2 separate regions of the Homo sapiens genome follow, and region 2 is linked to region 1. A link means that fine-mapping ties the variant in region 1 to the expression of a gene that starts in the linked region. Tissue or cell type: skin. Region 1 holds a variant in brackets; the other region holds the start of a gene. All regions are shown on one strand. Distances are from middle to middle.

Region 1 (8,101 bases):
TTTTCCTATACATTTTCCTTCTTGTTGACTAATATATGATGAATACTTTTTTCAGCTTGGATATACCATAAATATAAAAATAATAAAGCCAAAGAATTTAAGCTAAAATTCAACACTTTTCTTAACTAATTTAACTGGTATGGTCTCCATAGTAGTCCACTGTTTTGTTTCCTGTGTTAACTTCCCTTTTGTTTCAAAAGCTCTTAGAATAAGGAGTCAACTGGATTTTTATGTCCATGGACCCCTTGTGATTATATGCAGTGTACGCTGTGTGTGCGTGTGTGTGTGTGTGTGTGTGAGAGAGATCCTTTTACTTAGAAAAAGGTCTACTATGCTCATTAGAAGATCAAAAGCAGATTCTCCTTACTTGTAACATAGGAGTTTCAGGATTAATCTGTATTCAAGCTCATTCTATATCCTTCATCAAAGAAAAGACAATGTTTTGTGTCTGTTGTCCCTCTCACACACAGCCCTAATATATAATGTGTAACTGCCTTATCTGCAGCCCTAAACTAATATAGCTAGAGGTCTTCTAATCATTCTCCTACCTCTAGGAAAGAAATATAGTCTTGAAAACTGCCAATCTGGTGTGCATACAAAATATATACAAAATACCAAGGAACATTATATGAGCCTTTTGCTAGGTATATCTAAGCAACTGCTTCAGTTAATGGCCACTTTACAAATTGCTGAAAGAAGGAAACGTCTTTCGATTCTTTTTTTTTTCTTTTTTTTTTTTTGAGACAGAGTCTCTGTCTGTTACTCAGGCTGTAGTGCAGTGGCACAATGATAGCTCCCTCCAGCCTCAAACTCCTGGGCTCAAGCATTCCTTCTGCATCAGCCTCCTGACTAGCTGGAACTCAGGCTCATGCCACCAGACCTGGCTAATTTTTCTGTTTTCAGTAGAGAAAATATTTTCTTTCACTAATTTAACTGGTATGGTTTCCATTGTCTACCCAGTTTTCCATATGCATAAGAAAATATATTCACAGGAAAATATAAAGTTTTCAGATTTCATGAGTGGTTTTAAGAAAGTTTTAGTCAGTGAAAAAACTATCATACCAGTCTTCAAAGGAAGGGTGAAATAAGTTCATCTGCTACGTTGCCCAGGCTGGTCTTGAAGGGAAACAGACTTTTTTGTAGTCATACTTATCCTTTGGCTTCTTAGTAAGTATTATATAGTCATTACTTTTTGCAGTTTTTTAGATCAAAGTGTTAATGTAGGTAAAGTTAATTTTAGAATATATGTAAAAGTCAAGTCTGCTTTAAATTTAATCATCTCTTTGGTGAAAGGGATGGGATGGAGCTTTGCTTTTTATCATATATTCATCTGTACCTTTCAAGTATTCAAATAGAAAAATATAAACAATGTAAATAAAATAGCAAAACAATGTAATATCTCATAAAACTGCAATGGTAAAAGCATTTATCCTATTGAAATTCCACAATTTTTATTTGAAAATATTATCGACATGTAATTCAAGTGGCATTTAGAAGAATAATTTAAAAGCAACAACTCTATAGAAAGCTTGTAAAATGATTAAGTAGTTTAAACCAAATAAAACAATTTCTGAGTCAGTCATCTCCAGTAGGTCTATTTTAGTCTCAAGATAAATTCATTTCTGGTGACAACTGAAGTTCTTAGTTATTTGTTAGTATATATTGGAGACATTTACAATAAAGCTTAGAGCACAATGGGAAATGAAAGTATCATGTTTTTTTTAAGACCAAATGTATTGCAGAAATGTGAGTAATTTAATCCGATGCTACAATCTGATCATTCTGATCTAATCTGATCATTTAATAACACTAAATAAAACCTTCATCTCACATTCTTTGGCTGTTTCTTTTAAAATATGGGTTTACGGATAAATCAAATAAATTCAAAACAAAGTAATAAGCAAATGATTTTTTTTTCTCAGTAATCTAGTAGAGTATTACATTTAGAAGTAATCTGTATCTCAGTGCAGTAACTATTTAGGACTGTAAGCGCCGCTGTTCACCTACTGGAAGACAAATGCAACCGAAAACACTCAGATCTCACACCTCACGAAGACCCGCAGATGCCACAAACTAACTGCTGGACTGCAGCGAAACCCGACCCCTGTTTGGAGGCACTCCAGGTTTCCGGAGGATTGTCATCTCCATAGCTGCGGCAAGAAACTAAATAAGACCCATTTATGCACAGTGAAGATTCTGAGAGGATTCTGCAGCAAAACAACAATGGCCGCTCCACAGAGTCGCCCCAGACGCGGCGAGCTGATCCTGCTGTGCGCGCTGCTGGGAACGCTGTGGGAAATCGGGAGGGGACAGATTCGCTACTCTGTGCCAGAAGAGACGGACAAAGGCTCCTTCGTGGGTAATATCTCCAAGGACCTGGGGCTGGACCCCCGGAAGCTGGCGAAGCACGGAGTCCGTATCGTCTCCAGAGGTAGGACGCAGCTCTTTGCTCTGAACCCGCGCAGCGGCAGCTTGATCACCGCGGGCAGGATAGATCGGGAGGAGCTCTGCGCTCAGAGCCCGCGGTGTCTGATAAATATTAACACCCTGGTTGAGGATAAAGGAAAACTCTTTGGGGTAGAAATAGAAATAATTGATATTAACGATAATAACCCAAAATTCCAGGTCGAAGATCTAGAAGTAAAAATTAACGAAATCGCGGTTCCTGGAGCACGTTATCCACTCCCAGAAGCTGTTGACCCGGATGTGGGCGTGAACTCCCTCCAGAGCTACCAGCTCAGCCCCAATCACCACTTCTCCCTGGACGTGCAGACTGGAGACAATGGAGCCATAAACCCAGAGCTGGTGCTGGAGCGCGCCCTGGACAGGGAGGAAGAGGCTGCTCACCACCTGGTCCTCACGGCCTCGGATGGCGGCAAGCCGCCTCGCTCTAGCACAGTGCGCATCCACGTGACAGTGTTGGATACAAATGACAATGCCCCGGTTTTTCCTCACCCGATTTACCGAGTGAAAGTCCTTGAGAACATGCCCCCAGGCACGCGGCTGCTTACTGTAACAGCCAGCGACCCGGATGAGGGAATCAACGGAAAAGTGGCATACAAATTCCGGAAAATTAATGAAAAACAAACTCCGTTATTCCAGCTTAATGAAAATACTGGGGAAATATCAATAGCAAAAAGTCTAGATTATGAAGAATGTTCATTTTATGAAATGGAAATACAAGCCGAAGATGTGGGGGCACTTCTGGGGAGGACCAAATTGCTCATTTCGGTGGAAGATGTAAATGACAATAGACCAGAAGTGATCATTACGTCTTTGTTTAGCCCAGTGTTAGAAAATTCTCTTCCCGGGACAGTAATTGCCTTCTTGAGTGTGCATGACCAAGACTCTGGAAAGAATGGTCAAGTTGTCTGTTACACACGTGATAATTTACCTTTTAAATTAGAAAAGTCAATAGGTAATTATTATAGATTAGTGACAAGGAAATATTTGGACCGAGAAAATGTCTCTATCTACAATATCACAGTGATGGCCTCAGATCTAGGAACACCACCTCTGTCCACTGAAACTCAAATCGCTCTGCACGTGGCAGACATTAACGACAACCCTCCTACTTTCC[C/T]TCATGCCTCCTACTCAGCGTATATCCTAGAGAACAACCTGAGAGGAGCCTCCATCTTTTCCTTGACTGCACACGACCCCGACAGCCAGGAGAATGCCCAGGTCACTTACTCTGTGACCGAGGACACGCTGCAGGGGGCGCCCCTGTCCTCGTATATCTCCATCAACTCTGACACCGGTGTCCTGTATGCGCTGCAATCTTTCGACTATGAGCAGATCCGAGACCTGCAGCTACTGGTAACAGCCAGCGACAGCGGGGACCCGCCCCTCAGCAGCAACATGTCACTGAGCCTGTTCGTGCTGGACCAGAATGACAACGCGCCCGAGATCCTGTACCCCGCCCTCCCCACAGACGGTTCCACTGGCGTGGAGCTGGCGCCCCGCTCCGCAGAGCGTGGCTACCTGGTGACCAAGGTGGTGGCGGTGGACAGAGACTCGGGCCAGAACGCCTGGCTGTCCTACCGCCTGCTCAAGGCCAGCGAGCCGGGACTCTTCTCGGTGGGTCTGCACACGGGCGAGGTGCGCACGGCGCGAGCCCTGCTGGACAGAGATGCGCTCAAGCAGAGCCTCGTGGTGGCCGTCCAGGACCATGGCCAGCCCCCTCTCTCCGCCACTGTCACGCTCACCGTAGCCGTGGCTGACAGCATCCCCGAAGTCCTGACCGAGTTGGGCAGTCTGAAGCCTTCGGTCGACCCGAACGATTCGAGCCTTACACTCTATCTCGTGGTGGCAGTGGCTGCCATCTCCTGTGTCTTCCTCGCCTTTGTCGCTGTGCTTCTGGGGCTCAGGCTGAGGCGCTGGCACAAGTCACGCCTGCTCCAGGATTCCGGTGGCAGATTGGTAGGCGTGCCTGCCTCACATTTTGTGGGTGTTGAGGAGGTACAGGCTTTCCTGCAGACCTATTCCCAGGAAGTCTCCCTCACCGCCGACTCGCGGAAGAGTCACCTGATCTTTCCCCAGCCCAACTACGCAGACATGCTCATCAGTCAGGAGGGCTGTGAGAAAAATGATTCTTTGTTAACATCCGTAGATTTTCATGAATATAAGAATGAAGCTGATCATGGTCAGGTGAGTTTAGTTCTTTGCTTGCTTTTAATTTCCAGATGAATTTTATTTGGCATAAATTATGTTTTGAAAAACATTGTGAAGATAGTTGAAAATAATTTTTAAGGTGTATCACAGAGTTTTGGGTTTATTTTGGTGGTGTTACTATAAAATTGAACTCTAATAGTCATAGGTTATTGTTTCATTTGCTTTTAAACGACTTGGAAAAGATTGTTCAACCATTTTAAGCCTTCCAGTATTTTATTCCTATTATCACTCATTCACTTAAGAAGTAGCTACCCGTCCATACTGGTAATTTTGCTATTGTTTGTGTGTGTGTGTGTGTGTGTGTGTGTGTGTGTGTGTGTGTGTGTGTGTATCCCAAACTAGAACTTCAGAAAATTATCAAGAAGTCTAAAGCCTTGTTATTAGCTTAGCAAAAGTAAAATATATCTCAGAATTTTTAGGGTTATGTTTAGCATTTGAACCTGTAACTAGGCTCTTGTAGATTTCTTCACTTTAAACCTCTTTTCTGAGCCCTGTTTCTGTACCAGTGCCCTTCAAAACTTTAATACTTCTTACCATCCTTCAAAACATGAACAAACTTTAAAGATGGATCTTGGTGGGAGATGAGACTGGTTACTAAATATTAAGTATGTGAGTCAGTGGTCACCTGGGCTCCATGCCCATGGAGACATGAAATCTAAAGCCTAGAATGTCCATTGCTCCCCCAAACAAAAAACAAAAGCAAAAACATTAGATCTGAATTAAAATGTAATTTTAAACTGTTGAAAGTGACTTTTGTAAAATATGTAAGAACATATTTCAATACAATTCCAATTAGCTGTTTCGGTTGTGCATTGATGTGAAGTGGTGAGAATGTTGATATTAAGAACCAATGTTTCAGGTACACAAGTTCTAAATAAGCTGATCAATTCAATTAAAGTTATTCAGTCTTGGCTGGACACAGTGCCTCATGTCTGAAATCCCAGCACTTTGGGAGGCTGGGGCAGGAGGACCGCTTGAGCCCCGGGGGTTTGAAACTGCAGTGAGCTATGATCATGCCACTGCACTCCAGCCTAGGTGGCAGAACTAGACCCTGTCTCTAAAAAAACTATTATTAGGCCGGGTGCGGTGGCTCACGCCTGTAATCCCAGCACTTTGGGAGACTGAGGTGGGTGGATCACCTGAGGTCAGGAGTTCAAGATCAGCCTGGCAAACATGGTGAAACCCCGTCTCTACTAAAAACTACAAAAATTAGCCAGGCATGGTGGCATGCGCCTGTGGTCCCAGCTACTCGGGAGGCTGAGGCAGAAGAATCACTTGAACCCGGGAGGTGGAGGTTGCAGTGAGCCTCGATCCTGTCACTGCACTCCAGCCTGGGCAACAGGGTGAGACTCCGTCTCAAAAAAAAAAAAAACTAATATTAATAGTAAAAACTCGGTATAGGCTATCCATTATTGTATTCCTGCATACCTTCTTGTAGCATTTGAATAAAGCTAATACCTGAATTGATTGTTGTAAGGTAGAAGTAGATGACCCAATAAATGTTTGTTATTAATGAAAAGGACATTTCCTAAGGATTGTGTAGTGTTCTACTGTATGGTGCATATTCAGTGGAGTGGGAGTTAACTTCATAGTTTGTGTACCATTTGGATGCACATTTGAGAGGACAACATATTATTGGCACTTTGCAATTTTAAAAACTCGGATGAAAGTTGCCCTGGTAGGAAAGAAAATCCTTACTCTCCCTAAAAATGTTGGCTAGTTGTTTTTATTAATCTGACAAATGGACTAAAGAAGGTTGACCAATGTCCACAAATTTATGTAAATGAACTTATGAGCTTCATTTATCCAATTCCAAAGTCATTTCAGATAGGATAATAATGCAATCCACTAGAATATCCCTTTGTACCTTGTATTGCAGAATAGATAAGCATTTCCCCAATAACTCTTAAGAATGAATTTATGTACTGTAAAAGATATGACATAAGAGAAGTATTTTGAGATATGAAGAAGAGCAACGTAGTAGGGTATATCATTTCTTAGCTACATCATATGGGCAGTATACTTGAATGAATATTTCCTGAAGTAGAAGAGTAAAGAAAAATTATTTTTATAAAGAATGTTAATATAGTCAGGAAGAGGAGATGTTTGGGGATTGGTATAAAATTGCCACAACTTTACAAAATAGTTTTAAATAGTATAGATTTCCCTAATATGTGTAATATAAAACACTAGAAATATTGGGGAGTTGGAAATCATAGAAATGAACAGAAGAATGATAAAATTGTTTCCATAGCTAATAAAAAATGAATTTTTGAAATCAGTATAGTATGAAGGCTCTGAGAGCAAGAACTGTATCATATTAATTATTATATTGCCAGTGACAAGGGCAATACTTAGTTCTAGCTAAGAGTTCAAGGTATGTTTGCAGAATGGTGAAAGAATGGACCAATGTATGCAGGTTTGTATAAAAACCCAACGTGATATTTCTAACAATTTGGAAAACAGAGAAAGATACCTTAAAGAAGTTGTTATAATTTTTTATTAAGTATATGGACGTAAAAACTTGGCTTGTTAAGTTAGGCACACAAAAACAATTACTGCACTGGTTAACTTGAAGCCGCAGAGGCTGTAGTTTCCTAGTGCTGACTCTGGGCGCCGCTGTTGGCCAAAGTGCAGAGCTTGGCGCTCCAGATCTCCTCGCGCAGCCGCAGCGCGCTTTCCAGGGCAGCCCCAGCTCAGACTCCCCAGCGCCGGCCTTTACACCGCTTCCTCCTCGGAAAAAGAATCGTTTCCTAAACTGGAACTGGAACTAAAGCCCGTTCGGAGATCCAAAAATCTACAATACAGAGGTTATTTGTAACCTGGCGTCTCCAGGCTGGTGAGCAAGCTGAGGAGAGCAAGAGGGATGGGGAGCGGCGCCGGGGAGCTGGGCCGGGCTGAGAGGCTGCCAGTGCTCTTTCTCTTCCTGCTGTCTTTGTTCTGCCCGGCGCTCTGTGAGCAGATCCGCTACAGGATTCCCGAGGAAATGCCCAAGGGCTCCGTAGTGGGGAACCTCGCCACGGACCTGGGGTTCAGCGTCCAGGAGTTACCGACTCGAAAACTGCGCGTCAGTTCGGAGAAGCCTTACTTCACCGTGAGCGCAGAGAGCGGGGAGTTGCTTGTGAGCAGCAGGCTAGACAGGGAGGAGATATGCGGGAAGAAGCCAGCTTGTGCTCTGGAATTTGAGGCTGTTGCTGAAAATCCACTGAACTTTTATCACGTGAATGTGGAGATCGAGGACATTAATGACCACACGCCAAAATTCACGCAAAATTCCTTTGAGCTGCAAATAAGTGAGTCTGCACAGCCTGGCACAAGATTTATACTAGAAGTAGCAGAAGATGCAGATATTGGCTTAAACTCTCTGCAGAAGTATAAACTCTCTCTTAACCCAAGTTTCTCATTAATAATTAAGGAGAAACAGGATGGT
Region 2 (8,101 bases), 830 kb before region 1:
GCCAGGACTCAGGTCAGAGCTGGTGCTGGTAGAAGAAATGGCTCATAGATGCTCCTCCAACTAGTGGCTTGGGATCCCTGAGACCAGACATCTCAGAAATTTATCCACAGAAGTATTAAATAACCAGAAATCGCCCCCCCACAAAGCAGCACCAAAGCACCCCAATGCAGCAATGCAGGTCTCCCCTCCCCATACCTTGCCGTGGCAGGTCTTCAGGAGAGATGGGGTCTGGGGAGCAGCAAGAGGCATCACCACTGACCTCTACTCGCTCTGACAAGATCTAAAACACAATGAAGCCAGCATGACCCACAGGGAGAGAGGGGAATTAGGGTAAAAGGGCCAATACCACCCCAACTACCTTGGAAGCTTCAGACCCAACCCCTTACCCACATTCCCTGCCCCACCCCTGACACTTACCTGGGCACAAAGCCCATGTAGGGCACTGGCAATGGCCTTGGCAGGGACATCACAGCAAAACACATGGCACTTGAGCATACAGCTATCTTTGTCACTTGCCACAAAAGCGAAGTCCCTAGCAGGGGCAGAGATGGGGCTGGGGTAGAAGCTGGTTAGAGGCAGGAGCCTGCAGGAGGCTGGAAAGTCAGGCTAGGGATATAGCAGGGATGGAGTAGGGACATCAGGGATGGGGCTCAGGATACCTGGTTTTCACTCACCTGTCACTGTTCCGGAAGCATGTGGGAGCACAGAAGGGAATCAGCCCAGCCTCTCGGACTCTCCCCAAACTGTCCCTGCTGAGCTGGGCCCACCCTCCCCAACCAGGGCTGGACCAGGCAGGGGAAGCAGTCCTGGGTCCACATCAGAGGATCTGTGTCCAGGGGTTCAAGTACTGGGGATCAGCATCAGTGGGGATCACAGCCTGCAGCCGGGAGGGAGAAGTAGCTCTTGCTTGGGGGATGTAGGCATCCTCACCGGCCCTTGGAGCTCCCCACGCCCCACACACGGATGTGCACCAGAGGCTGGCAGTGGATCAGACTGTGGTCCAGGGGATTCACTAGGCTCATGGCATCCTTCTTCAGGATCATCAGCATGTTCTGGCCCTGCCAAGGACAGAGGTCAGCCCAGAGCTCAGATAAAGGTCATTGCCATGAGAAATAGGAAATTCAGGGACAGCTACCTCTGCTGGGCCCTGGGCCCAAACCATTAAAGGGCCCAGCCAACTCACCTCACCCCAGGCACCATCTGGAGGCTGGCTCCGGCTGCGGGTCTGGGCCAGCTGCTGGATACAGTTATTGACTGCAATACTGCTCTTCCCCGGTGCCAGGTCCTCTTCAGGTACCTCTACCCAGCCCAGAGAGCGGACTGCAAAGCACTGACAGGTTGGGGGAAGGGACAGGAATTAATAAGGATGGAGTAGGGTGGCAGGTGCCACAATACATACTCCCTGTCTTCACCCTTGATCACCTCTGTTCAGTCCAATCCCACCCTTGTCTTTCCCTTGGGACCTCCCAATGCCCTCAGGCCCAAGTCACTACCTTAGCCCCTGGCTCCATGCTCTGGATGTAGGATTCCCCACCATACCAGGACAGAGAGTTACTGAAACAGAGCAGAGCTGTTAAGAGGACCACATTTCCTACAGTAGGGACACTGGTGAGGCCTAGACAACTTGATAAGCACAGGATGAGGGGCAAGACCCAGAATATAGCACCAGAAATATAAAACCAGAGCAGGGTAGAGCCCAGGACATATTAACGTAACATAAAGTGTGACTCAGAATTTGAGGGAAAATTCAGGACATAGGACCCAGACACAGGACATAGAATAAAAGTCACAAGGCTAGGTGCAGTGGTGGCTCACGCCTGTAATCCCAACACTTTGGGAGGCTGAGACGGGTGGATCATGAGGTCAGGATATCGAGACCATCCTGGCCAACATGGTGAAACCCCATATCTACTAAAAATACAAACATTAGCTGGGCATGGTGGCATGTGCCTGTAGTTTCAGCTACTCAGGAGGCTGAGGCAGGAGAATGACTTGAACCTGGGAGGCGGAGGTTGCAGTGAGCCAAGATCGTGCCACTGCACTCCAGCCTGGATGACAGAGTGAGACTCCATCTCAAAAAATAAAAAATAAAAGTCACAAAATAGAACAGGGTCCAATATGTGGACCAGAACCCCAAAGTGGGACAAGAGACCCTAGAACAGAGGACTTAATGGCCAAGGTCTAGAACATGATAGGTTAGGACCAAGAATATGAAAAACATGTAGCTACAAACAAGAGCTTAGAACAAGGGATAAAACTCAAAATACTGACAGTTAAGAACCTGGGACAGAGCCAAGAACGTAACAGAACCCAAAACATGTGACAGAATCCAGAACCTGGGCTGGAAAGCAGACCATGGGTCCAGCTGCATTTTTGAACACCATGGAACCCCAAGCCTTTCATTTTGCCTGGGCCACCCGTTACCTCCGGTCCAGTGAACTCTCCAGGCTGGAGAAGGATCTCCCTTTGGGGGGCCGCAGTCCCCAGATCCCCTCCGTTCCCTGTAGAGTGGGAGTTAGTCAGTTTAACAGCAGACCTAGGTCCACACATGGGCTCAGACCTCCTCCTCACACTCTACCTACCGTGCCTGGGTCCTCTGCATCTCCTAGTTCCCAGGTTGGGCGCTGCCACTGGGTGCTACCGCTGGGTACATGCCAGTAGTAAGTACCTGCAGCATCGTGGATCTTCCTCCAGCCAGGAGGCAGGCCAGCCTCCACCTCCAGACTGTGGTCCCCCCACAAGTCATCTACAGGAACACCGGATTAGAGAGGAGGGAGCATATGATTTGTGAGTTCAGAATAACATGCTGTCATAATCCCCTCTCCATCCCCAAAATGGGTCAGTTCTTAGGCTGAAGATCCAGGCTCCTCAATCTTGAAGACATCACATGTAAAGACCGGGTTCATTCGCCCCCTGGTCCCTACACAGAGAGGTATCCCCCACCGTCTTTGAGCCCCAGAGTAGCCTTTCGGATTCCCTCGTCCTCCCTCAGCTCCTGGTCTTCCCACCGGGCCCCTCCGTGCACACCATCGCAGTTGACCAGAATGATGGCCAGCATGTAATCCTTGCCCAGCATAACCCCGGCTGCTCCCCGCCAGCCTCTGCCGGCCCGCACTCTCAGCCCAGCGCGACCTCTGGAGCTACTGCGCCTGCAAGCCCAGCCTCTCTGCGCCGCAGGCTGCGGGGCCAGCTGGCGCCGCACAAATACGGGGCGGGACACGGGGCGGGACACGGGCCGGTCCCGGGGGAGGGCCTGAGCCGCACAGCCCGCCCAGGGGTGGTGCGTGTAAACGGGCGTCTGGATCCCCGAATGGTTGCGTGTTTCCGTGTGTGGGTCCGGGGGAGGCCCACGAACGCCAGCGAAACCGCTGACACCACCGCCCAACTATGAACTCATCAGGCGCCTGAAGACCGACACGCCGAACATGCGCCGCGCGCACTCGCGCACGAGTGAGATCATCGCGCCCCGGTCGTGAGTGCGCTCACACGCAGCCTGAGACTCGACGGGAGGGGGTCACGTGGAAGTATCTGAGAGAGGCGTACTTGGCCACTAGGAAAGCACCTCCCCCTTTCCAAAAATGCTCCGGAAGTGCCTTCGCCCTCCGTAAAGATGGCCGGGGCAGTCGGCACGAGGGAGGCGGGGATGCGCCTGCGCAACAAGTTCGGCGGGGAAGATGGCGGATGACAAGGTGAGTGGCCGTGGGGGTGATCTGCAGCCGGGCGTGGTCTTCACTCTCCTTGACCTTTTTAGTTCCGGGGAGAAGCGACTCTGGAGCGGCTCAGGAGTGAGGATGTCCCTTGTTTCTTCTGCGGCTCCTGTCAACTGCCTCAACAGTGTGGAGTGGTGTGGGGAGAGCATTCGGCGAGGCGGGAGGAGCCGTGGATCCCCCAGATGTCCCCTCCTGGGAACCATCACGAACCCGTTACTAGCACAGACTCAAAAACATTCACCCTTAAACACTCCTCACTTTACCCCATTCCCTAGCTCCCGAAATTTTCTTCCCAGTGACACGATGTTTCCAATCACACGGACACTCACACCACCCTCATTCAAACACTCCTTTGCATACATTCTGAATTTCATACTTATATGCGATCAAAATCACTCAGTCCATTTACTTACACACTTGCCGACAGTCTTTTTTGTCATTCTCAGTCACATCCAGTCACTCACATTCAGTTTGGGATGTCCTTGGGAAGAAAGAGGTAAAGCCCATCCAGGAACCAAGACAATAAAATTGTCCAGGAAACTGCCTCGGTCCATTACTCACCATTGGTCTAGAAGCTCAGCATTACCCACACATTTACTAAATGTCAGGCACTAGAACATAGTAGCCAAGACAGACTGGTCACGACTTTCAAGGAGCTCATAATGGAGTCAGTAGTGGTTTCCTGATGGACCTAATTAAAGGTCCCTAGCTGTCCCTCCTGCCTTTCCTACATACTGCTTGCTATATAAAATTCTTGTCAAGGTTGATGTAAGTTACTGGTTCAGATCCCATCTGTCAGTCCCTTCCTGGCCCTCATTTGAATTCTGTGCTTTTCAATGCTTGTCTTTCTTTGCCACTGCCATCTCAGGAAGCTTTTATAGGAAAAGGTCTTTCTGGCTCACCCCATCCCCTCCCAATTCCCAGCTTCTGATGGAATTGAGCAAGGGGTGGGGCTTAGTCAGACTGCTGGAGCCAGCCTCTCGCTTGTCCTAGGATTCTCTGCCTAAGCTTAAGGACCTGGCATTTCTCAAGAACCAGCTGGAAAGCCTGCAGCGGCGTGTAGAAGACGAAGTCAACAGTGGAGTGGGCCAGGTAAGGACTGTCCCACCCCACCCCTGCCTTAGGCTTTATTGCCCAACATGCTCTTGAGAGTGTTAAATGGATGGTAGAGATTTCTTCAGCAAGTGATTATTGAGGGCCTATTCTCAGTCACCCTAAGGACAATTTTTCTGAATGGCACATGAACTAATATCTTAAGTAGTGGTTAAGTAGGTGAAGAGGGGAGGAAAGAACATTCCAGGCAGAACAGCATATGTAAAGGCCTTGTGGTAGGAAGTAGCATTATAAACATGAGGGGTGAAAGGAGGTCCATTTGGCTACAGTAGTTGGGGAGCATGCTAGGAAATGAGGCTGGAGAAACCGGCAGGGCTAGGGGCATCTCTGACCTTGTGTGGCGGTGGAGTTCTATGGTTGGAGCTTTCTGACCCCAGGGTTCTGAGATTGTGTGATCAGAACTGCTTGGTTCTTTTTCTGGCCCCAGAACCTTGGGAAAAATCTGGAGAAAATACCACGGTTGTCCAGGGTGAGGAGGAGCTGGTGGTGGAATGCTCTAATCCCAGCTTGAGTAGCCCCTGGACAGTCAGGAAGGAGCCTAGCTAAGTTTCCTTCTGCATTTTTCTCTGCAGGATGGCTCGCTGTTGTCCTCCCCGTTCCTCAAGGGATTCCTGGCTGGCTATGTGGTGGCCAAACTGAGGGCATCAGCAGTATTGGGCTTTGCTGTGGGCACCTGCACTGGCATCTATGCGGCTCAGGCATATGCTGTGCCCAACGTGGAGAAGACATTAAGGGACTATTTGCAGTTGCTACGCAAGGGGCCCGACTAGCTCTAGGTGCCATGGAAGAGGCAGGATGAGCAGCTCAGCCTTCAGGTGGAGACACTTTATCTGGATTCCCCAGCTGTCATCCATTTGCTATCTCCAACTTTCCTGCCACCTTCATCCTTGCCTCCCTTCCTGCAGATTGTGGACAGTAGTTCCTCAGCCTGCACCCTGGATTCCTTCTTCCCCTTCCTAGCTCCATGGGACTCGCCCCAAGACTGTGGCTTCAAGGACCACCAGCCCCTTACTCTTCAAGCCCTGACTGTGGAGTTGGTAGATGCCTCTGATCCTCAGTATTCTCTCTGGCAATGTTCCACGGCTTCTCCTTCCTGGGAGCTGGCTCCATAACTTGATTTTCCCCAAACGTGTTGCAATCCCTGCTGCCCCTTAGCCACCCAGGGTCTTGTGTGGGTATGAGTGTAGAGGATGGGGGTATGCCAGGCCTGGGCCGTCCCAGGCAGGCCCGCTGGACCCTGATGCTACTCCTATCCACTGCCATGTACGGTGCCCATGCCCCATTGCTGGCACTGTGCCATGTGGACGGCCGAGTGCCCTTCCGGCCCTCCTCAGCCGTGCTGCTGACTGAGCTGACCAAGCTACTGTTATGCGCCTTCTCCCTTCTGGTAGGCTGGCAAGCATGGCCCCAGGGGCCCCCACCCTGGCGCCAGGCTGCTCCCTTCGCACTATCAGCCCTGCTCTATGGCGCTAACAACAACCTGGTGATCTATCTTCAGCGTTACATGGACCCCAGCACCTACCAGGTGCTGAGTAATCTCAAGATTGGAAGCACAGCTGTGCTCTACTGCCTCTGCCTCCGGCACCGCCTCTCTGTGCGTCAGGGGTTAGCGCTGCTGCTGCTGATGGCTGCGGGAGCCTGCTATGCAGCAGGGGGCCTTCAAGTTCCCGGGAACACCCTTCCCAGTCCCCCTCCAGCAGCTGCTGCCAGCCCCATGCCCCTGCATATCACTCCGCTAGGCCTGCTGCTCCTCATTCTGTACTGCCTCATCTCAGGCTTGTCGTCAGTGTACACAGAGCTGCTCATGAAGCGACAGCGGCTGCCCCTGGCACTTCAGAACCTCTTCCTCTACACTTTTGGTGTGCTTCTGAATCTAGGTCTGCATGCTGGCGGCGGCTCTGGCCCAGGCCTCCTGGAAGGTTTCTCAGGATGGGCAGCACTCGTGGTGCTGAGCCAGGCACTAAATGGACTGCTCATGTCTGCTGTCATGAAGCATGGCAGCAGCATCACACGCCTCTTTGTGGTGTCCTGCTCGCTGGTGGTCAACGCCGTGCTCTCAGCAGTCCTGCTACGGCTGCAGCTCACAGCCGCCTTCTTCCTGGCCACATTGCTCATTGGCCTGGCCATGCGCCTGTACTATGGCAGCCGCTAGTCCCTGACAACTTCCACCCTGATTCCGGACCCTGTAGATTGGGCGCCACCACCAGATCCCCCTCCCAGGCCTTCCTCCCTCTCCCATCAGCAGCCCTGTAACAAGTGCCTTGTGAGAAAAGCTGGAGAAGTGAGGGCAGCCAGGTTATTCTCTGGAGGTTGGTGGATGAAGGGGTACCCCTAGGAGATGTGAAGTGTGGGTTTGGTTAAGGAAATGCTTACCATCCCCCACCCCCAACCAAGTTCTTCCAGACTAAAGAATTAAGGTAACATCAATACCTAGGCCTGAGAAATAACCCCATCCTTGTTGGGCAGCTCCCTGCTTTGTCCTGCATGAACAGAGTTGATGAAAGTGGGGTGTGGGCAACAAGTGGCTTTCCTTGCCTACTTTAGTCACCCAGCAGAGCCACTGGAGCTGGCTAGTCCAGCCCAGCCATGGTGCATGACTCTTCCATAAGGGATCCTCACCCTTCCACTTTCATGCAAGAAGGCCCAGTTGCCACAGATTATACAACCATTACCCAAACCACTCTGACAGTCTCCTCCAGTTCCAGCAATGCCTAGAGACATGCTCCCTGCCCTCTCCACAGTGCTGCTCCCCACACCTAGCCTTTGTTCTGGAAACCCCAGAGAGGGCTGGGCTTGACTCATCTCAGGGAATGTAGCCCCTGGGCCCTGGCTTAAGCCGACACTCCTGACCTCTCTGTTCACCCTGAGGGCTGTCTTGAAGCCCGCTACCCACTCTGAGGCTCCTAGGAGGTACCATGCTTCCCACTCTGGGGCCTGCCCCTGCCTAGCAGTCTCCCAGCTCCCAACAGCCTGGGGAAGCTCTGCACAGAGTGACCTGAGACCAGGTACAGGAAACCTGTAGCTCAATCAGTGTCTCTTTAACTGCATAAGCAATAAGATCTTAATAAAGTCTTCTAGGCTGTAGGGTGGTTCCTACAACCACAGCCATGATTGTCTTGTGTCTTCTGTCTGCGCAACTCCCCTCAAACAATTTTGTTCCTCTGGGGTCCTGAGTATCTTAATTCTGGGATAACTTTTAGACTAAGAAAAAATTGTTTTCTCCAAGCTGTTGCCAGTGGCATTATTTCCTGTGAGAGTTCCATGGAACTGAGACATTT

Alleles and levels. Alleles are on the strand shown, and positions count from the first base shown. SD is a standard deviation of normalised expression in the study named.
For the expression in skin of the gene that starts at base 3,429 in region 2, allele T in region 1 goes with a higher level than allele C (large effect, 1.0 SD a copy in TwinsUK).

Evidence for each region. PIP is the estimated chance that this variant, and not a neighbour inherited with it, causes the effect.
Region 2: APBB3 starts here. The variant in region 1 is fine-mapped to the expression of APBB3 in skin (TwinsUK, PIP 0.95).

Annotation. Positions count from the first base shown.
Region 1 is chr5:141,390,591-141,398,691 of GRCh38, forward strand. The region is part of intron 1 of PCDHGA1 (protocadherin gamma subfamily A, 1); the gene reads left to right. All of the region lies in intron 1 of PCDHGA2 (protocadherin gamma subfamily A, 2), which reads left to right. The region is part of intron 1 of PCDHGA3 (protocadherin gamma subfamily A, 3); the gene reads left to right. All of the region lies in intron 1 of PCDHGB1 (protocadherin gamma subfamily B, 1), which reads left to right. It also overlaps PCDHGA4, PCDHGB2, PCDHGA5, PCDHGB3, PCDHGA6 and PCDHGA7, and 4 more genes. The variant C/T (reference allele first, on the strand shown) is at 3,581.
Region 2 is chr5:140,561,170-140,569,270 of GRCh38, forward strand. APBB3 (amyloid beta precursor protein binding family B member 3) reads right to left here and starts at 3,429. Exons shown (of 13, transcript NM_133173.3): 1 at 3,028-3,429; 2 at 2,583-2,746; 3 at 2,425-2,501; 4 at 1,494-1,554; 5 at 1,184-1,330; 6 at 931-1,058; 7 at 675-680; 8 at 418-532; 9 at 196-280. The coding sequence starts at 3,076. It overlaps SLC35A4 (solute carrier family 35 member A4), which reads left to right and starts at 3,659. Exons shown (of 3, transcript NM_080670.4): 1 at 3,659-3,689; 2 at 4,704-4,802; 3 at 5,396-7,931. The coding sequence starts at 6,001. The coding sequence ends at 6,975. It overlaps LOC131768270 (SLC35A4 upstream open reading frame protein), which reads left to right and starts at 3,659. Exons shown (of 3, transcript NM_001394034.2): 1 at 3,659-3,689; 2 at 4,704-4,802; 3 at 5,396-7,931. The coding sequence starts at 3,675. The coding sequence ends at 5,593. MIR6831 (microRNA 6831) reads right to left here and starts at 2,582; the gene lies at 2,502-2,582. RefSeq lists enhancers at 2,587-2,646, 3,255-3,861, 3,617-3,736 and a silencer at 3,117-3,296.